2 separate regions of the Homo sapiens genome follow, and region 2 is linked to region 1. The links come from fine-mapping of genetic effects on gene expression. A gene starts in region 1. The other region holds a variant in brackets. All regions are shown on one strand. Distances are from middle to middle.

The links. PIP is the estimated chance that this variant, and not a neighbour inherited with it, causes the effect.
Region 2: its variant is the best candidate, but not a certain one, in a credible set for the expression of SFN in lung (TOPMed, PIP 0.59).

Annotation. Positions count from the first base shown.
Region 1 is chr1:26,860,072-26,865,443 of GRCh38, reverse strand. SFN (stratifin) reads right to left here and starts at 2,295. Exons shown (of 1, transcript NM_006142.5): 1 at 988-2,295. The coding sequence starts at 2,231. The coding sequence ends at 1,485. RefSeq lists enhancers at 1-246, 457-586, 1,731-2,610 and a silencer at 2,480-2,629.
Region 2 is chr1:26,880,914-26,886,285 of GRCh38, reverse strand. GPN2 (GPN-loop GTPase 2) reads left to right here. Exons shown (of 5, transcript NM_018066.4): 3 at 153-313; 4 at 1,996-2,126. Among named protein-coding and RNA genes, the nearest start is that of GPN2, 6.7 kb to the left of the region's middle. The variant A/G (reference allele first, on the strand shown) is at 2,056.

The sequences.
Region 1 (5,372 bases):
CAACGGGCAAGCACTGCATTTTGCGATCCTGGCTCGTCCCGCTGCTCTAGAGGGTTCCCAGCTCTCGGGCCGGACGGGCGGCAACTTGTCTGAGTGAAACCGGGAAAGCTCCGCCCCTCGGCGCTCAGCGGGCGGCGGGGGCGCCTCTCAGTCAGTCAGCGAGTCGTGGTGTCCGCCAGGCCTGGCGGGCGGCGGGAAACTCGCCGCGCGCGTTCCGCCGCTCACTTTCCCATTGGCCAGTCAGGCCCCCGGGGCGGTACCCTGGGGCAGCTCCCTCCTGTGATTGGGCGGTATTGGCCTCGGGCCCCGCCTCCAGTCCAGGGCTGCGAAGGCGGGACGGAGCAAGGCGGCTGCAGGTTCCGGCGTGTTGCTGGCTGCAGAGAGCTCAGGCAGCGGGCTCGGTAGGCACAGCTCCCAGCGGCCCTTCCCACCCAGCTCGTCCTTCCTCCCCTTCAGCCCGTTTCCTTTTGTCTCCATCTCCGAACTCTGTGGGACGTGACCCTCTCCTAAGATCTAGGCTTTTTTGGCGGCGCTATACCCCTTCCTCAGATCGTACTCCCCTCCGCTGAGATCTGAGCCCTTGATGAAACTGTGACCCGCCTGCAAATCGGGTGCTCAGTGCCGCTCACTACTGCGGCGCTGTCCTTAGATCTCACGCCGGAGACTTCACTATTTCCTGCCCCGCTCCACCAGAGCTCGTCAGCCTCCCGCGCCGTGGCTCCCACTCACCTCCCCTCAGCCCGGCAGAGGAGCCACGGCGCCTCCTGTGGGTTCACCCGACCCTCCCGGTCCCGTCCAGTTTGACTGGGGCCGCCGTGATGGAGAGAGCCGGACCCCGGCCTCACCTGGACTCAAAGTCTTGCGTGCGGGCCACTGAGCCACCTAGGGAGTTCAGGGCCCTAACTCAGAGGTCCAAAGTCAGGGTCTCTAAGTCAGATTCCAGTCCCACTCCCAGCCCATCGCCAAGAACTGGAAGAGAGACAGGAGGAGTGTCACAGGGGAACTTTATTGAGAGGAAACATGGTCACACCCAGCAGACATGCTTTCCCTCAATCTCGGTCTTGCACTGGCGCGCGCGCACACACACACACACACACACACACACACACACACCCATCTCCAGCCCCTGCCACTGTCCAGTTCTCAGCCACAAGGCGGGACACTCCTCAATTCCTACGATCAGAGGCAGCAGGGGCAGGAGGGAGGCAAGAGGAGGGGAGAAGTAGCCTGGTCCTGGGGTCGGGAGGAAGCGGGTGCGGAGAGCAGGGGTGGGGGCATGACCAGTGGTTAGGTGCGCTCAACAGCTGCAAGAAGAGTGGGATCCCCAGCCCCAGGTGGCCTCAGCTCTGCCAGTCCCTCTCCACGGAGCCCTTTGGAGCAAGAACAGCGCCTAGGGGAGAAGGGTGGGGCCTCCCACCCCATACTAGTCCTCTCGGCAGGGTGGGGGACTGGAGGGGGCAGGGCGGGGCGGTGGCGGGCAACACTCAGCTCTGGGGCTCCTGGGGAGCCTCGCCCCCCTCTTCCCCGGCGTTGTCGGCCGTCCACAGTGTCAGGTTGTCTCGCAGCAGCTGCATGATGAGGGTGCTGTCTTTGTAGGAGTCCTCGCTGAGGGTGTGCAGATCAGCCATGGCCTCGTCGAAAGTGGTCTTGGCCAGAGAGATGGCCTCCTCGGGGCTGTTGGCGATCTCGTAGTGGAAGACGGAAAAGTTCAGGGCCAGGCCCAGGCGGATGGGGTTGGTGGGCGGCATCTCCTTCTTGCTGATGTCCATGGCCTCCTGGTAGGCTGACCGGGCTGAGTCAATGATGCGCTTCTTGTCGTCACCGGTGGCCACCTCGGCCAGGTAGCGGTAGTAGTCACCCTTCATCTTCAGGTAGAAGACCCGGCTCTCGGCGTCCCCGGCCTCCTTGATGAGGTGGCTGTCCAGCAGGCCCAGCACGGTGTCGCACACGCCCTGGAGCTCAGTCTCCACCTTCTCCCGGTACTCACGCACCTCGGGCCCCTTCTCCTCCGAGCCCTCCTCGTTGCTTTTCTGCTCAATACTGGACAGCACCCTCCAGGCAGCCCTCTGGCCGCCCACCACGTTCTTATAGGCTACTGAGAGCAGGTTTCGCTCTTCGCAGGAGAGCTCCTCGCCCTTCTCCACGGCGCCTTTCATGAAGGCTGCCATGTCCTCATAGCGTTCGGCCTGCTCTGCCAGCTTGGCCTTCTGGATCAGACTGGCTCTCTCCATGGCTCTGGGGACACACAGGCGGGCGGCGGGCTAACTGCTGCCTGGGACCAATGCCGGACTCTGTGTCTCTCCTGCTCTTGGCCTGCCTTTTGGCTGGGTGGCCAGGCCCAGAGAAGGGTGGGGAGGAGCAGGGGGCGGGACCAGGGCCCAAGACCTGCCTCCCTCTCCTCTCTTCCCCACACCCTTTCCGGCTCTGCAGTAAAGGTAAAAAGGCTGGGATGTGGGGGTGAATCATCAGAACAGTCAGCAGGAGAAATCTGGGCGTGGGCCCCACCTGCACTGGCACCTTTCCAGGCTCCAGGCTGCCCCCTCTTGTTCGGGGCTGGCATCACATGGCTGCCCACATCAGGAAACGGCTTCTCAAATCAGATCCACTTTCACAGTGCCCTTCCAGGGGCTAAGGACGGCTTTAGCCCCTGGCTGCTTCAGCCTCGACAGAGCCCATAAAGGTTCAGGAGGATGGGGTTCCTAATCCTGCCAGGTAACTTCCCCCCTTGGTTCAGGTGAGGATAACTCATGTTTAGGTAGGGCCATGGAGTTTCCCAAGCACTTTCATATTCACGATCGAATTTAATCCCCACCATGTCTCTGTGACACACACAGGACCATAGAGATGGGAACACTAAGTCTCAGAGAGGGGTGAGATTTGCTCAAAGTCACATAGCCACCAATTCCCTGAAACTCCTTTCTGCACCCTCTTCCTTTAGCTTTTCTCCCATTGAGGCCTCTGACCTATGAGCTCCAGACTGTGTTTGGAAGTGAGATCCAGGCTCCTTCTCAGTCTACCTGAAGATGGTTCCATCCTCCAGGCCTCATTCCCCCTCAGGGTCCCCTCTGAGCTCCCAGAATGCGCAGGTGGCAGCTTTCAGAGTGCCGCTTAATGAAGTGTTTAACAAGCAGCCTCTGAAGCTCCAGCCCAGCCTTTGTAATTAGTCACCCAGTAGGTTTGTTGGACACATTTCCCATCACTACACAATTTTCCCTTTCAAGTTGGTGGCCTGTTGCCACTTGTTTGAGGATTTACCCTCTGGCCCTCCACGCCAGGTCACCTGCCCTCTCCAAGCCACATGCCATCAGGTACCAGCGGGGCTCACAGAGGGTGGGGTCCAGCTCCCCGGCTGTCCCACTTTCCTGCCTGACTCAGACTGCTCTCTGTCTGAGGCTGGGAAGCAGTCCAGTTTGATCCCCCAGGGGGGACGCTAGCAACCTGGGGAGAGAGAGGACTGAGAAAGGGAGGTGGCAGTGACACATACCATTCTGTTTTATGGGGCAGCAATTCCAGCTACGTGATGCCTCCCCCAGCCTGTTTCTCAGAAGTTTACTTGTTCTTTCCTTTTTTTTTTTTTTAAATAGAGAGCAGATCTCACTACATTGCCCAGGCAGGTCTCAAACTCCTGGGCTCAAGCGATCCTCCTGCCTCAGCCTCCCAAAGTGCTGGGATTATGGGCATGAGCCACTGTGCCTGGCCTGTTCCTTCCTTTTGACCATTGCCCCATCTCTGACCCCTGGCAGAGTCCTCAGAGATGGAGACCTCTGTTGCCAACGTTCTTTCCCTGCTTGCCGGAGCCCTGGCCTCAAGTTTCATCAAGAGTTTCACCTAAGGGTGTTGGCATTGAGCCTATAGGGATGGATTCCTGCTTATCTGCCCCACCCATAGCCAAAGCTTAGATGGGGCTCAGAGGTAGGGCTCCCTTCACTGGGATTCTGCCGACCTAATAGTTGAGCCAGGATAATTTCACAGGCCTGTGTCTCCCCCAGCTACTCTGAGTGTCTGAACACTCATCTTCCCTCCTGGAGGGAGGCTTAGGCCAGAACTCTGGGGACCAAAGACGAGATCCTTCTCTTTGCCACAAGGAGGAGTAGGGACATGTCTGGGCTAATGCTACAGGGTTTCCAAGGAAGTAAAGGGGATTTTAAGTTTGACGTCCCAAAGATTTTGCTCAAATCAGAGAACTGACACAGAAAACAATAGGAACCACACTAAAATACCAACTTCTAGAGGGTATCTTGAGGTAGTGAGAGTGAGTGATTTTGCTTCCCTTTGATTTTCTTTCTTCTCAATTTCCTTTTTAGAGATAGGGTCTTACTCTGATGTCCAGGCTGAAGTACAGTGGTATGATCACAGCTCACTGCAGTCTCAACCTCCTTGGCCTCAGGTGATCCTCCTGCCTCAGCTTCCTAAGAATAAGGTGCTCACCACAACGCCCAGCTAATTTTTGTATTTTTTTGTAGAGACAGGGTCTCACCATGTTGCCCAGGCTGGTCTCGAACTTCTGGGTTCAAGCAATCCTCCTGCCTTGGCTTCCCAAAGTGCTGGGATTACAGGTGTGAGTCACTACACCTGGCCCTTTTGATTTTCTTATTCTCTCCAATTTATAAATAGTGAATATAGGTCGGACGCGGTGGCTCACGCCTGTCATCTCAGCACTTTGGGAGGCTGAGGTGGGTGGATCACAAGGTCAGGAGATCGAGACCATTCTGGCTAACCCAGGAAAACCCTGTCTCTACTAAAAATACAAAAAATTAGCCGGGCATGGTGGCACATGCCTGTAGTCCCAGCTACTCGGGAGGCTGAGGCAGGAGAATCGCTTGAACCCGGGAGGCGGAGCTTGCAGTGAGCCGAGATGGCGCCACTGCACTCCAGCCTGGGTGACAGAGCAAGACTCCGTCTCAAAACAAAACAACAACAAAAAAGTGAATATGTATTGTTTGTCTATGAGATACAGAATAGACTAGTATCTTTGGAATCAGACTGCCTAAATGTAATTCTTATAGCTGTTTGTGGCCTTGGCCAAGTGATTTAAGCTCTGTGAGCCTCAGTTCCTGTAACTATAAAATGGGACTTGTGAGGATTACACGAGTTAATGGAAAGCACAGTAGAATGGATGGCAACTATTATTATTATTATTTTCTTTTTTTTGAGACGGAGTTTCGCTCTTGTCACCCAGGCTGGAGTGTAGTGGCACAATCTCAGCTCACTGCAACCTCCACCTCCTGGGTTCAAGTGATTCTCCTGCCTCAGCCTCCCGAGTAGCTGGGATTACAAGGGTGCACCACCACACCCAGCTAATTTTTGTATTTTTTTTTTTTTTAAGTAGAGATGTGGTTTCACCATGTTGGCCAGGCTGGTCTCGAACAGCT
Region 2 (5,372 bases), 21 kb before region 1:
AACCAAATGCTTTTTTTCTTAGTAACTTCATTTTACTGTGTCAAGAAATATTTGAGTGCATGAGTGCACAAAGGAAAAAAGGAAAAAGGAACCTCGTCCTCAGGTCTTTAGCCTGATACTGGTTGCTCCTGAACACTGGTTTCTCTCTTTAGCCTTCAACCTGGACTACTACACAGAGGTTCTGGACCTCTCCTACCTGCTTGACCACCTGGCTTCTGACCCTTTCTTCCGCCACTACCGCCAGCTCAATGAGAAGCTAGTGCAGCTCATCGAAGACTATAGCCTTGTCTCCTTTATCCCTCTCAACATCCAGGTACTAGGGGCTAAGACGGGACTCTTGACAGTGCATGGGATTCACCAAGCCAAAAGCACAGGAAGCTTTGAGGGCTTAAAGAATGGTCTTTGCCGGCTGGGCGCGGTTGCTCAAGCCTCTAATCCTAGCACTTTGGGAGGCCGAGGTGGGCAGATCATGAGGTCAGGAGATCGAGACCATCCTGGCTAACCCAGTGAAACCCCGTCTCTACTAAAAATACAAAAAATTAGCTGGGCGTGGTAGCAGGTGCCTGTAGTCCCAGCTACTCAGGAGGCTGAGGCAGGAGAATGGCGTGAACCCGTGAGGCAGAGCTTGCAGTGAGCCGAGACCACGCCATTGCTCTCCAGCCTGGGCGACAGAGTGAGACTCCATCTCAAAAAAAAAAAAAAAAAAAGAGTGGTCTTTGCCCTGGGTTGAGTATCACTGAGAGTAACCTTAGTTTCAGGACCAGGGGCTGCTGTAGGGGCAGAATTCCAGTAAAGAGAGTGGACCAAACTTTTGCCCTGTCTATTTTGTGTTGCTGGATCCTCTCTTCACATGTTCTGTCCTCTGTGAAAATGGGTGAGTTCAGAAAGTCATCAGCAAGAAAGTTCACCAGGACCAGGGACAAGTCTCTTAAGCCCTTTCAACTGGGCAACTGTCTGTTGACTTTGCAAAGTGGTACCCAACCCCTGTGCCTCTCACCTTTACCCTGCAGAGATAACCTGGGAGACGCAGGTGCATGTTAGATTCCTTTCTGCAGTGGGTGGACTTGAGCTAACTTGTCTCCTCCCTTCTAATGCCACACTCTTCTGATATGAGGAGATGAACTCTATAATATCAATCACAACAATTACCTCTTATTTATGGCTTTCTGTGCTGGGCACTGTGCTAAGGACTACACATACATAATTTTGCTTTGTCCTTCCCACCATGTGATATATGGACTGTTCTTATCACTGTATGTGGATGAGGAAACAGTTATAGTTTTTTTTTGTTTTGTTTTGTTTTTTGTGACGGAGTCTCACTCTGTCACCCAGGCTGGAGTGCAGTGCGTTATCTTGGCTCACTGCAACCTCTGCCTCCTGGGTTCAACCGATTCTCCTGCCTCAGCTTCCCAAGTAACTGGGATTACAGGCATCCATCACCATGCCCAACTAATTTTTGTATTTTCAGTAGAGACAGGGTTTCACCATGTTGGCCAGGCTGCTCTTGAACTCCTGACCTTAAGTGATCTACCTGCCTTGGCCTCCCAAAGTGCTGGGCTTTACAGGTGTGAACCACCGTGCCTGGCCCAGTTATAGATTTAAAACATGCATATTCATTGGATGTCTACTTAAGAGAAGTACTGTGCCAGGCACTGGGAATACTGCGACAGATGACCTGGCCCTAAGGGGTGTTTAGTTGAGTAGGGGAGGCAGGTGAGTTAATAGGCGTTTATTACATGGCAGGGATACCATGTACAATAGGTGTAAACCCAGGGGACTGTGGATATGCATAGGGGAGCTTATCTGTTCTAATCTGAGTGAGTTGGTGGTCAGGAAACATGAGATTTATCCAGCCTTTGGGGACATGTAGAACTACTCCAGGCCAAGAAAGCTACAGGTACAGAGGCAAGATGGAGGAAGGTGTATTTAGAGATTGCAAGCAGTTTTACATACTTCTGTTTCACTCACAGAACTGTTTCTCTCCTCCCTGCTCAGGACAAGGAGAGCATCCAGCGAGTCCTGCAGGCTGTGGATAAAGCCAATGGATACTGTTTC[A/G]GAGCCCAAGAGCAGCGAAGCTTGGAAGCCATGATGTCTGCCGCAATGGGAGCCGACTTCCATTTCTCTTCGTATCCTTGCCAGCTTCCTGGCCATAGCAGAGAGGGTGAGACATGGGACTCAAGAATGGCCACAGGAGGTGCAGTCATCAACCTTGTGGATGACCAATTTCTTTTTTTTTTTTTTTTTTTGAGATGGAGTCTTGCTCTGTCGCCCAGGCTGGAGTGCAGTGGCACGATCTCAGCTCACTGCAAGCTCTGCCTCCCGGGTTCACGCCACTCTCCTGCCCCAGCCTCCTGAGTAGCTGGGACTACAGCCACCCACCACCACGCCCAGCTAATTTTTTGTATTTTTAGTAGAGACGGGGTTTCACTGTGTTGGCCAGGATGGTCTTGATCTCCTGACCTTGTGATCCACCCAATTTCTTTTTTCTTTTTTTTTTTTGAAAGGGAGTTTCGCTCTTGTTGCCCAGGCTGGATCGCACAATGGCGCAATCTTGGCTCTGTGTAACCTCTGCCTCCCATATTCAAGCAATTCTCCTGCCTCAGCCTCCCAAGTAGCTGGTATTAGTGTGCGCCACTGTGCCCAGTTAGTTTTTATATTTTTAGTAGAGACGGGGTTTCACCATGTTGGCCAGGCTGGTCTGGAACTCTTGACCTCAGGTGATCCACCTGCCTCAGCCTCCCAAAGTGCTGGGATTACAGGCATGAGCCACTGCGCCCGGCCGTGGATGACTGATTTCATATTGATCAGTTGGGCTTCCTGATGACTGTCTCTCATGTGCAAAGGTGGTCCCTTGGCTTCAGAGTTGGTTGTACTGAGGACAAGAGAGGATATTGATCAATAGGAGTAACAAATACAGAGGCCCAGAAATGAGAGGGCATTAGTCATTCGGGAGAGATGCAGGAGTCCAGTTCCTGGTGTGTTGCATGTGAAGAGGAAAGGGCGTTGCAGGGGTACAGGCAGGGCTGCCGAGGGAGGGGCCTGAGTGCCCTACTAAGGAATGTGGACTTCAGTTCATGGGTGGGCAGTGGGAGCAAGTATTCAAGCAGTACTGTTGAACAGGGTGTGACACAATCAGATGTACATTTTAGAAAAGCCCCTGCAATTGTGGAAAATGCATTTAAGGGACGTGATTGGGGGCAAAAGAGTTTTACAGTCTTGCTAGGTGAGAAGGGTTGAAAGATTTGTAGTGAGAATAGAAAGAAAGGTGTAGAATGGAAAAATACTAAGGAGATAGACTGTAAGAGTCAGTGACTGAATGGGATAGATGGAGCTGGAGTAGAACTTAGCTTCCCAGATCTCTGGCTTAGACGGTGGGTGGTTGTACTAATCACTGAGGCAGGAAAAGGAGGAGGGAGCAGGTTTGTCACATGGATGAAAGGGACAAGAGCTGGCAGATGTGCTGTGTTCAGGGGTCCATGGGACATCCAGAGCTGTCCAAGAGGCAGCCAGACTTTTGGAGCTTGGTTAGTGACTAATGAGGCTGGAGCCAAGGTCATGGGTAGGTGTCCATCAGGTCACAGAGGCCATGCGTGAAGCAGGACAGAAAAGTCCAGGCCCTCTAGGCTGATGCTCTCACAGATTCAGCATCTATGCAGCATGCTGGAGACAAGGGGGACTCAGGAGTCTTAGGGTATAGAGGAAAATAATTCCAGCCAACACTTACTGATGTTTCTCGAGCCATATGTGGGAAACAAAGCTCATGGGGTCGGGGTTGGAGGAATGACTTATAAATGATGGCAGTAGAGTGTGCAGTCCCTGATGAAGGTACTAAGGAGCTGCGTCACACCTGCAGTTAATGTAGGCCAATTGGACTGCATGTGCTCAGCAAAAGAGGGGAGGAGCAATTTTTTTTTTAAATTTAAGATGGACTTTCTTTTGCTGTTGTTGCCCAGGCTGGAATGCAATCTCCAACTCCAGGGTTCAAGTGATTCTCCTCCCTCAGCCTCCTAAGTAGCTGGGATTACAGGCATGCTCCACCACACCTGGCCCTTTTTTTTTTTTTTTTTTGAGACGGACCGTCAATCTTGTTGCCCCAGTTGGAGTGCAATGGTGCAATCTCAGCTCACTGCAACCTCCATCTCCCACGTTCAAGCAATTCTCCTGCCTCAGCCTCCCGAGTAAGTGGGATAATAGGCGCCCGCCACCACGCTCAGCTAATTTTTTGTATTTTTAGTAGAGACAGCGTTTTACCATGTTGGCCAGGCTGGTTTCGAACTCCTGAACTCAGGTGATCCACCTGCCTTGGCCTCCCAAAGTGCTGGGATTATAGGCGTGAGCCACCATGCCCGGCCTGCAACTTTTATATTTATTTCTTAGAGGCAGGGTCTTGCTCCTTTGCCCAGGCTGGAGTGCAGTGATGCAATCATAGCTCACTGCGACCTTGAACTCCTGGGCTCGTTACCCTCCCACCTCAGCCTCCCAAAGTGCTGGGATCACAGGCATGAGCCATCGTCCCCAGCTGGGAAGGGCAGTTTATGTTTGTTTATTTTGTGAGGCAGAGTCTCACTCTGTTGCCCAGGCTGGAGTGCAGTGGCGTGATCTCAGCTCACTGCAGCCTTGACCTCCCTGGGCTCAAGTGATCCTCCCACTTCAGCCTCCTGAATAGCTAGGACTATGGGCGTGTGCCACTGTGGCCAGCTAATTTTTGTAGAGATGGGGTTTCACCATACAGCCTAGGCTGGGAGAAGCAATTTAAATAATGTAGTATTTTGTACACCGTACAGATGGTTCCCAACTTATGATGGCTCAACTTTATGATGGTGTGAAAGCTATATGCATTCAGTAGAAATCATACTTTGGGTACCTATCAATCATTCTTTCACTTTCAGTACAGTATTCAATAAATTACATGAGATATTCAATACTTTATTGTAAAATAGGCTTTGTGTTAGATAATTTTGCCCAAATGCAGCTAACGTAAGTGTTCTAAGAATATTTAAGGTAGGCGAAACTAAGCTATGATGTGTGGTAGGTTATGTGTATTAAATGCATTTTCGACTTAAGATATTTTTGATTTAGGATGGGTTTATCAGGATGTAACCCCATCATAAGTCAAGGAGCATCTGTACGTTACTTTATGTATTCGTATATATAAAGGATTCTATTCACAAAACCATGTATGCTGCATTTAACAAATAATTTGAGGAATTTTAAAGAGTATTTTTAACCATATACATTTGTGCTGATTTTAGATTCTGCCCTGACCCTAACCCCCTTAAGATTCAGCAGCTCTCTGTAAGAGAGTAGGGACTGATACAAATAAGGGAGTGGTCAGCTTTGCTGAAGGGTAGGTGGGTAAGGAAAGCTTTATG